Homo sapiens: one gene and its partners. The gene in region 2 interacts genetically with the main gene of each other region. Each region holds a gene or a part of one and is shown on either strand. Other genes may lie near its edges.

What was found.
Region 1: changes in GBF1 (region 2) and VKORC1L1 together harm fitness more than expected from each alone (negative genetic interaction), as found in Homo sapiens cells (one study listed by BioGRID).
Region 3: changes in GBF1 (region 2) and PLAA together harm fitness more than expected from each alone (negative genetic interaction), as found in Homo sapiens cells (one study listed by BioGRID).

The regions. Positions count from the first base shown.
Region 1 is NC_000007.14:65,879,572-65,883,225, reverse strand, and holds part of VKORC1L1 (vitamin K epoxide reductase complex subunit 1-like protein 1), read right to left. Parts: intron 1-3,654. UniProt on the Homo sapiens protein: Involved in vitamin K metabolism. Can reduce inactive vitamin K 2,3-epoxide to active vitamin K, and may contribute to vitamin K-mediated protection against oxidative stress.
Region 2 is NC_000010.11:102,251,887-102,255,540, forward strand, and holds part of GBF1 (Golgi-specific brefeldin A-resistance guanine nucleotide exchange factor 1), read left to right. Parts: intron 1-3,654. UniProt on the Homo sapiens protein: Guanine-nucleotide exchange factor (GEF) for members of the Arf family of small GTPases involved in trafficking in the early secretory pathway; its GEF activity initiates the coating of nascent vesicles via the localized generation of activated ARFs through replacement of GDP with GTP.
Region 3 is NC_000009.12:26,916,108-26,919,761, forward strand, and holds part of PLAA (phospholipase A-2-activating protein), read right to left. Parts: intron 3,423-3,654; coding exon 3,203-3,422; intron 1,142-3,202; coding exon of another isoform or gene 1,059-1,141; coding exon 990-1,058; intron 599-989; coding exon of another isoform or gene 510-598; exon of another isoform or gene 1-509. UniProt on the Homo sapiens protein: Plays a role in protein ubiquitination, sorting and degradation through its association with VCP. Involved in ubiquitin-mediated membrane proteins trafficking to late endosomes in an ESCRT-dependent manner, and hence plays a role in synaptic vesicle recycling.

The DNA of each region.
Region 1 (3,654 bases), on a different chromosome or scaffold from region 2:
AGGTTGCAGTGAGCCGAGATGGCACCACTGCATTCCAGCCTGGGTGACAGAGTGAGACTCCATCTCCAAAAAAAAAAAAAAAAAAAAAAGCTCAAATGTATAACATGTATAATGAGAACAATAAAATTCTTCTGACGAACACCAACTTTAAATTATGGATGATTGGGCAGTCTTATGTCAAATTTGTTTTGTTTTGATGGCATGGTATCAAGAAAAACCGGATTCACAAAGATGAATAGATGATAAAGCATGTTTTGCCAATGATAATGTTTTGTGTGTGTTTTTTAAATAGTACATTAACGCTATCTAAGGATTTAATTACACCTGTCCAGAAGTTTTAAAAGTAAAACATTTCTAAATTAATTATGTAATAGTGTTAAGGAATGAATACTTGGTAGTCGTAAACATTTTGGTAAAAAATAAAAACTTTACAATATGTACTAATCCTGATATATGCATTAGGCAGTCATGTTATTGCATAATGCAACAGTTCTAATAGTACTGAATGTGCTTATATGTTACATGAACAAACAAGCACTAGCCTAAAATTTCAAAATATCAACATAAAGCTACAGTCTTACTAATCAATAACATTTTTATCCTTTCTAACTCTGAGGAGGAAAAAAAAGGAAAGAAAAAATTTTAATTAAAAAATAAAATGGCATTTTAAAAGTTTCATTTCTATACACAAAGTGAGACACTCTATTCCAAGGATTATTGTCCTGGGTGTAAGCATTATAGATAATTTACATTTTCTTCCTTTTGCTTATTTTCTCTCAAATATTCTAAATGCACTTTTTTTTTTTTTTTGCTTTTTTACTTTTTATTTTATTTTATTTTATTTTTCAGACGGAGTTTCACTCTTGTTGCCCAGGCTGGAGTGCAATGGCGTGATCTTGGCTCACTGCAACCTCTGCCTCCTGGGTTCAAGCAACTCTCCTGTCTCAGCCTCCCGAGTAGCTGAGATTACAGGCATGCACCACCATGCCCGACTAATTTTGTATTTTTAGTAGAGATGGGGTTTCACCATGTTGGTCAGGCTGGTCTCCAACTCCCGACCTCAGGTGATCCACCCGCCTCAGTCTCCCAAAGTGCTGGGGTTACAGGCGTGAGCCACTACACCCAGTCTATTTTATTTTATTTTCTTGAGACAGAGTTTGCTCTGTCGCTCAGGCTGGAGTGCAGTGGCATGATCTCAGCTCACTGCAACCTCTGCCTCCCAGGTTCAAGTGATTCTCCTGCCTCAGCCTCCCAGGTAGCTCAGACTACAGGCACCCACTACCATGCCCGGCTAATTTTTGTATTTTTAGTAGAGATGGGGTTTCACCATGTTGGCCAAGCTGGTCTTGAACTCCTGACCTCACGTGATACATCCGCCTCAGCCTCCCAAAGTGCTGGGATTACAGGCATGAGCCACTGTGCCTGGCCAACTTTTTATTTTAAAATTACTATAATTATAAATCACAGGAATTTACAAAAAAGTACACAGGGAGGTCCCAAGTACCCTCGCCCAAATTCCTCCAATCCTGAGTTTATTCAGGTTTCACCAGTTTTGTATGCAAAATGGGACTTGAGTACGCTAGGATTTATATGCAGTATGTGTGTGTGTGGTTGTATGAAGTTTTTATCACATTTGCAGCTTTGTATAATCACACCTGAGACATTGAACTGTTCCATCCCTACACAGCTCCCTCATGCTACCACTTTATAACCACACCACCCCTCACCTCCCATTCCTAACTCCTAGCAACCACTAAATCTGTTCTCCATCTCTGCAGGTTTGTTATTTCAATAATGTTACATAAATGCAATCATACAGTATGTAATCTTTTAGGGTTCTCACTTGTTTTCACTCAGTATTAACTCTCTTGAGATAACCTGGCAGACAAATCAGTTGTCTCTAATATATTAAAATTTAGCATGAGATTCATTTGACTGTGTATAAACATTTATAATATTTTAAACTTAAAACATTAAAATGTGAATCAAAGGTGTATGAAATCCCTGTTTCATTGACAGAGAACAGGGATTCTGAGATACAAATTTTGAAAACTGGGAATCTAATACAAGCCTAGTACAATGTAGTACAGGTTGAATATTCCTTATCTGAAACACTTTGGAGCTGAAATGCTTTGGATTTGGGATTTTTTCAGATTTGGGAATATGTGCATTATATACCGGTTGAGCATCCCAAATCTGAAAGTTCAAAATCTGAAATGGTCCAAAATCCAAAACTTTGAGTGCCAATGACACTCAACGGAAATGCTCACAGGGGCATTTCAGATTTTGGATTTTCGGATTAGGGATCCTCAACCTGTACAATAACTTTATAGAAGAAAAGCTCAGGACTCAGTGCTATGTCTTATCAGTGTTTACAAGAGTACATGGTTTATAAGAACGCCTGGTTTTGCACTTGCTATGGGCAAGATCTAGATTCTGGTTCTTTCCCAACCCAGTTGAATATGTTACATTCAAATATGACCACTTGCTGTTCTTCTCAAATGACCACAGTTTGCTACCCTTTCAAGTTCTTCCTAATGATTGAGGAAATGAACTCCTCTTAAATTCCCAGATCTGTGTGGCGCTTTAGCTAGCACCACACCTCAGGTCCAATTCTCCTGTCTTTATATGCAGCAGGTCCACACGACAAGGCCTCCCTCCGAAAAAGCTACCCCAATCTAGGACAGATTCAAACAAACTCTTTTCCCTCCCCCTCCCTCCATGTGCCCAGAACCCCTTTCTCCTTCCTCCCTAGGCTAACCTGCTAAGTCTTCCGGACAGCTCACTACACCGTCTATCTGTTAGTTAACTGGGTGTGACAAACCACGTCCTCACACCTTAGAAGGCAAACACTCCAGGAACTTACTTCTGGAATACCAATACCTTCACAGTAATTTCCCTGCCTTTCCAAAGAGTGCTCTAAACAGGTAAAAGTGATACCACAAACTCTATATATTTTTGTCACATAGATACAGAAACTGGCACCATTGTTTGCATATTTAAAAAATCTGGTTGATATGGTTATCACTCTATCAATATTAGATCTAAATGGAATTTAAAGTAGTGGTAAAAGGCTGGGCGTGGTGGCTCACACCTGTAATCTCAGCACTTTGGGAGGCCAAGTGGGAAGACTGCTTGAGGCCAGGAGTTTGAGACCAACTCAGGCAACAAAGTGAGACCTCGTCACTATGAAAAATAGAAAAAATTAGCTAGGCATGGTGGGGTGTGCAACTGTAGACCCAGCTACTCAGGAAGCTGAGGTTGGAGGATCACTTGACCCAGGGAGGTTGAGGCTGCAGTGAGCCATGACTGCACCACTGCACTCAGCCTGGGGAGACAGAGTGAGACAATGTCTCAAAAAGTTAAAGAAGAAAGAAAAGAAAGGAAAGAAAAAAAAAGGAAAGGAAAGAAAAAGAAAAGGAAAGAAGGAAGCAAGGAACGAAGGAGGAAGGAAGAAGGAAAAATAAAGAAAAGGAAGGAAGGAAGGAAAAAGAAAGAAAAGAAGGAAGGAAAAGAAAGAGAGAAAAGAAAGGAAAGGAAGAAGGAGGGTGGGAGGGAAAGGAAGAAAGGAAGACGAAAGAGTAGTGGTAAAGAGCTTGGACTCTTGAGCCAGACTGCCTGGGTTAGAATCAGGCCTCTGCCACTGTACTACCT
Region 2 (3,654 bases):
GTGGGTGGCCGGGCATGGTAGTTCATGCCTATAATCCCAGCACTTTGAGAGGCCGAGGCAGGCAGATCACTTGAGGTCAGGAGTTTGAGACCAGGAGTTTGAGACCAGCCTGGCCAACATGGTGAAACCCCAACTCTACTAAAAATACTCTGCTAAAAAAGTGGAAAAAAGGGCTGGGCGCAGTGGCTCACACCTGTAATCCCAGCACTTTGGGAGGCCGAGGTGGGCAGATCACCTGAGGCCGGGAGTTTGAGACCAGCCTGACCAACACGGAGAAACCTCATCTCTACTAAAAATACAAAATTGGCCCGGCATGGTGGCGCATGAATGTAATCCCAGCTGCTGGGAGGTTGAGGCAGGAGAATCGCTTAAACCTGGGAGGCAGAGGTTACGGTGAGCCGAGATTGTGCCATTGCACTCCAGCCTGGGCAACAAGGGGGAAACGCTGTCTCAAAAAAAAAAAAAAAGTGGAAAAATAAATAAATAAATAAATAAGTGGTTTTAAGATTGTTCTTAGAACCACTGTGATATTCTGACTCCCTCATTGACTTTTGGATGGAATGAGTAAGGGTTTATCAGGTGGACAAGAGTGAGAAAAAACATTCAGAATAGAAAGGGAGCTTCATATGCAAAGGCAAAGAGGCAGCAAAGACCATGACTTTAAAAAGTAGGAATGATGTGGCGTGGTGGCCCACACCTATAATCCCAGCATTTTGGGAGGCCAAGGCAGGCAGATTGCTTTGAGCTCTGGAGTTTGAGACCAGCCTGGGCAACATGGCAAAATGTTGTCTCTACAAAAAATACAAAAAAATTAGCCAGGCATGGTGACTCATGCCTGTAGTTCCAGCTACTTGGGAGGCTGAGGTGGGAGGATCGCTTGAGCCTGGGAAGCAGATATTGCAGTGAGTCAAGATTGTACCACTGCACTCCAGCCTGGGCGACAGAATGAGACCCTGTTTCAAAAAAAAAAAAGGAACTTTTTAACTTTTTAGGGTCTTTTATTTTATTTTATTATTATTATTTTTTGAGCCGGTGTCTTGCTCTGCTGCCCAGGCTGGAGACCAGTGATGCAATCTTGGCTTACTGCAACCTCCACCTCCTGGGTTCAAGCAATCCTCCTGCCTCAGCCTCCTGAGTAGCTGGGATTACAGGCCCCTGCCATCATGCCCAGCTAATTTTTGTATTTTTAGTAGAGTGGGGGTTTCACCATGCTGGCCAGGCTGGTCTCAAACTCCTGACCTCAGTTGATCTGCCTGCTTTGGCCTCCCAAAGTGCTGGGATTACAAGCATGAGCCACTGCCCCCAGCCGAGGGGCTATTTTAGACAAAGAATATGTGTAGCTTATATGGGGCACCAATGGCTGCCACCCAGCTTGAAAAATAACATCACCAAAACTGAGGCTGCATGTATGTATGCCCTTCCCTGTTAGTTCCCCCACACTCCCTGCCGCTTGCCACTATTCTCAATTTTTTTGTGTGAGCTTCTCTGGGGTATAGTCCTAGAAGTGGAATTGCTGAAATATAGGATATGAAGTGCTTTAGCTTTGTAAGATAATGCCAAATTGTTATTCAAATTCATATTAATTTAGATACATACCAGCCACTTGGTCTGCATTTTTTACCAACTTAAAAACAATTTTTTTTTTGAGACAGGGTCTTACTCTGTTGTCCAGGCTGGAGTACAGTGGTGTGATCGTGGCTCACTGCAGCCTTGACCTCCTAGGCTCAAGTGATCCTCCCACTTCAGCCTCTCAAGTAGCTGGGACTACAGGCACATGCCACCATGCCCTACTAATTTTTAAATTTTTTGTAGAGATGGAGTTTTGCTATGATGCCCAGGCTGTTCTCAAACTCCTTGGCTCAAGTGATCCTCCTGCATCGGCCTCCTAAAATGCTGGATTATAGGCGTGAGCACCTGGCCTTTTAAGTATTATCAGATTTAAAGTGTTTTGCTATTTCAGGAATGTAAAGTGGTATATCATTATAATCTTATTTTGTAATTTTCCTGATTATTAATGAAGCTAATAATCTTTTCATATATTTATTTGCTGTTTATGTTTCCTATTCTGTGAAACACCTATTCATCTCTGTTGCCAATTTTGGGGAGGGGTTATATGTCTAGTTCTTATAGTTTTGTAGCAGTTATTGTATACTCTGGATATTACTCCTTTATATTAGTTATATGTGCCTCAAATATTTTCTTCTGGTTTGTGCCTTATCTTTTCCCTCTTTTTTATGTTGTCTTTTGAACAGGCATTTTTAATTTTAACATGGTTGAATTCACCAATTTTTTAAAGAGGTTTTGCTTTTTGTTTCTTGTTTAGGTACTTCTCCCTTATGCTGAGTTTATAAAAATACTCTCCTGTAGCCAGGTGCTGTGGCACACACCTGTTGTCCCAGCTACCCAAGAGGCTGTTGTGGAAGGATTGCTTGAGCCTAGGAGTTTGAGTCCAGCCTGGGCAACATGGCAAGACCCTATCTCTAAAAAAAAATCAAAAAGAAAATATTCTCATATATTAGCTTCTAAGAGATTTCAAGTTTTGCTTTTCATATTTAAATAACCTGAGATATATTTTTGGTATTCCATTAAATAAGAATACAATTTATTGTTTCTTTTTCTCCTGCTTTTGTTGGATATAGACAGAGTTGCCAAGTGATACAGTGACTCCTCTTTGGATCCTGTTGAGGTAACTGGGATGCCACAAAGCACTAGGGGAATGTTCTAGACCCAGCTTTAAATGGACAGTGGTTTCAAGGGTACATGTTACTCAGAGTCTCTGGGCCAGTGGCTTATCTGGCTAAGGGTGTTAGTTGGTATTTATTTAGTTGTTCCCTCTCTTATTTATTTTTTTCTATTAATTTTTCATTTGTGTGGGTACATAATGAATGTATTTCTCTTGTTATTTCTGACACAAGATAAATCTTAAGTTCGTTTCTACTATACTTTTATGAGGTTTCTGCAGGCCTTTATGACCTTGTGACAAGGGATTTCTTGGCCATTGGCTACCAGGCAGCAAGTGGTTCATCAGTTTCCCATCTGAAGCTGAAGGGCACAACTGTTTGGAGATTCCCTGAGTGAGGGGACATACTCAGAGACCTAGAAGGAGATTAGGCAGCTCTGCATAGTACTTGAAAATAATTCCTCTTCATTCCCTAGATGTTTCTTTTTTTTTGAGACAGAGTCTCACTCTGTTGCCCAGGTTGGAATGCAGTGGCGCGATCTCGGCTCACTGTAACCTCCACCTCCTGGGTTCAAGTGATTCTCCTGCCTCAGCCTCCCAAGCAGCTGGGATTACAGGTGTGTGTCACCACACCTGGCTAATTTTTGTATTTTTAGTTGAGGTGGCGTTTCACCATGTTGGCCAGGCTGGTCTTGAACTCCCAACCTCAGGTGATCTGCCCACCTCAGCCTCCCAGAGTGCTGGGATTATAGGCGTGAACCACTGCGCCCAGCCCTAGATGTTTCTTTTTTACAATGATTTTTTGCTTAGACCTTTGCTGTCTTAGAAAGTGGTTACTTCTTTTCTAAAGGGCTTATTCATTTTTAGTCAATCAGCTGATTAAAATTTAAAAGTAGTTAATAGGTAATATATGTTTGTGACACAAAATTCAAAAGGTAAAAAAGAATATACAGAGAAAAGTTAGTCTTCCTTTC
Region 3 (3,654 bases), on a different chromosome or scaffold from region 2:
TTCACAGGAAAAAGGAAGCTCACGGACAGCAATCCACAACTTCATGATGCTGACCTAACGTTGTATGTTTGTCCAATCTCTATGACTTAGAGAGGACTGTAGGTTGTCATTTTTATAGCTCACAGTACCAGTCTGCAAGGCCAGTGGATACCTAAACGCTATGATCTCTTCCCAAACTGAGTATACTGTCGAGGAACTCTGTCTGAAGATCCAACAACAGCATTATACAAGATATCAAAAGCCATTCTGAAAATAGAGACTTCTTCAGCTGCCTTAAAGTCCAACTCTGGCACTTTTTCCAGTAGTGTTGATGCTGAGGCATGCATACCTTGGTAAATAAATTCATTTTGAAGAGATACACCAACACTTCAAGGGCTTCAAGAAGGACATTAATAACTTAGATTAGGAAGACTACTCCTGGGTAGTTGGGTGGAATGTCTCCTTCCATGTTAAGTCAAAATATGCCTGGGGAGACTTCTTGATTGTACTGCTCCATCCAATATCAGGGCTCACATGGCTCCTTCTCTGCTCGTGATTGGTAGCATCTCGCCAGTGATAGCACTCATGCTGTGTCTTGGTTGGTGGGTTCCCCTATTATCTAATTTCACAGATAAAAAAAATAGGCTCAGACAGGTTAGGTAACTTGCCAACTTCTCATAGCAAGTAAGTGGTAGAGCCCAATTTTGAACCAAGGTTTGTCTGACTCTAAAACCTATATTCTTAACTATACTGCTCTCCTGGTGGGAAGGACCCCTGGAGAAAACAATGAATTCTAATAATATGCTATTTAAAAGTCACGAGGGAATCTACACAACCACTCCAGGAAAAAGCAAAAATCAGAAGTTAAAGAAAAGGAAATCCATCAAAATTGGAAATGCAGATAAGGGAATTACCAATTACTGGATGACATCTCCAAGATGTAAAGCCATGTGATGCAAGATGCTATACATTTAGTGAAGAAAGATACATGAATCAAAACTACATCCCACCTGTAAAAGGATCTGCTGTGGGTAGTGTGTTAGAAGATCCCGAAGAGCCCGGAACATACCGACCACCACCTGTGCATGCAAAATAAAGAAAAGGCAGAAGTGCACCAAAGTTCTGAATTTTTCAAACAGCACAATGCTTGTTTTAGAAGAACCTACATTTGGAGAAAAACAGAAGAGCAAAACTTTCACATGATAGAATGACAGAAACTATAGTCAGAAGTCTTATAACTGGGAAAAAACTGAAATTTTAATGATTCTCCAAGTTTTGTTTTCTTAACTTTAATGCTTTATTATACCTTAGCCCCAGCACTTAAATATTAAAACTTAATTCAAATATCAAAAGAGAATTGCAGGTAATATCTGACCTAAATATATAAACATACAATCAATTCCTGTCCCTGTTCCTATACAAATTCACAAGAGTTCCTGCTGTTGTTATTGTTATCAAAACCACAGGCACTAAATGTTAATCATTTAGAGCTCTAGGTTCATTAATTCATGTGTCAAACAATGGACTCAGGGCTGGGGATCCAGAAGGGAACAAAATTGCTTATATCCACTGAAGCTTACAACCTACTGGAGAAGAGAATTAGAAAAGGGATGAAAACTACAAAGGAAAGAGACTTCCATTTATACATTTACGAATGTGTGGCGTATGTGCCTATGTTTTGTTAGTACCTCTAGGGAAATAATCAGGTTGTCCACAAAAAAAACAAAAAACAAAAAACAAAAAACAGTAAGGATGCTGAAAAAGTTAAGAGTCTCAGAAGGGCAAAACAAGCCAAGTGCTTCCTAGATTTCCAGACAAAGTCAGCTGCTTTAATTCCTTTCCTGTATCCCACATGCAAAATAGCTTACACAGTACTACAATCTGTGTTCACTCTTGAACTACAGTCTGAAATTCCAACAACAAAAATATCCACATACTAAACAATTATTTTCTTTTTAAGTGCAAGTATTTGGAGGATCAGATCATCTGTAATTCAGTAGTAAGTTACTTTGATAATTTTTTTTAAAATTTTTTGATTTTTTTCAGACGGAATCTTGCACTATCGCCCAGGTTGGAGTGCAATGGTGCGATCTTGGCTCGCTGCCACCTCTGCCTCCCAGGTTCACGTGATTCTCCTGCCTCAGTTTTCCAAGGAGCTGGGATTACAGGCGCACATCCATCACACCTGGCTAATTTTTTGTATTTTTTTTTTTTTTTTTTTTTAGTAGAGACAGGGTTTCGCTATGTTGGCCAGACTGGTCTTGAACTCCTGACCTTGTGATCTGCCTGCCTTGGCCTCCCAAAGTGCTGGGATTACAGGCGTCAGCCACCACACCTGGCCTGATAATTCTATTTAAATCAACATGCAGGTAACATTAGTTTTATTTTATGAATGGGCAATGAAATTTTGAAGTAGAATGAGGAGATAATTTGGGAATGTGGAGTAGCTGTCAGGGAAGAAAAGGTGGATCTACATAAGGATTTGAGACAGGAATATAATACAAAGTCCTCGTAAAACAAGGAAGAGCACTAGCACCTGAAAAATGTTGAGTCAGAAATGATGAGAGGAAAACATTAACAGTAAAGTGCCTATCTCAAAATGTTATTTAGAGGAGGCATTTTATTTCCTCCTACACCAGTCTCCAGAACTCACGTTAATATTACTAGGATTAGATTCCACTTCCTAGGGGCCAGAATTTGGACTAGTACCATTAGGATTACAATTTACAGACTGGTATGAGCACCTAACTGCATTTATAACATGAGATACGATGTATACGATGTTACAAACAATTAACTTAAAATGAACGTGTAGAATACACATCACATATAAACTAAAACTACCCATAGGGTTCACTTTTAGATTTGATGCATGACTGACCAATTTAGCCTCATGTGAAAAAAAGATTTACTAAATTTTGCCAAAATATAATTTTTTAAAAGAAACACTATATAAAAGAACTTACAAGTTTATTTTTGTTTCAAATAACTGAAATTCCATTATAGTATGATTGTATTTTTGAAAGACAACAATTTACTATTATTTCTGTAAAATACAGAATTACTTCATCATTTGAGGCTTAAACATATGAATGTGAAGTAAAACCCTGCTGTAGATATTGGTATTTATTGAAAAAGCTAATCACATGACTATTTGAAAACATCAAAAAAATCAATCAACACTAATGGAACTACATAAGACTCAATATAAACACTAACTTACCTGTAAATGGATCTGAAAAGCTGGGATTCCCAAGTCCCAACATTTGACCTTTTGTGTTATCAATAATAAATTTAGCTACTTGATCCAGAAACATAGGATTCAAATCATTCTTCTGTAAGAAGTTGTATGCAGTTAACCAAGGGTCATCACTGGTATTATATGGCAATTTATATGATGGTCCACCTTCATTGACATCAATTGAGAAAACATAATCAAATTCCTAAAGTAGGAATATAAAAAGGAGATACATGCTTATTATCTGTTCACATATATTAATGACATATACAACATAACACAGATGTGTTCTTTAATAATTACAGTACTTAAACTTTCTCCAAAGTGCAGTGCTAAAATCTTCGTTTTTGGCAGATAAAGATTAACAGCCCCCATCTGCATGTGATGCAAAATTAGTATTTCATTAGGGGATGGGGGTGAGGATGAAGGATGGATTA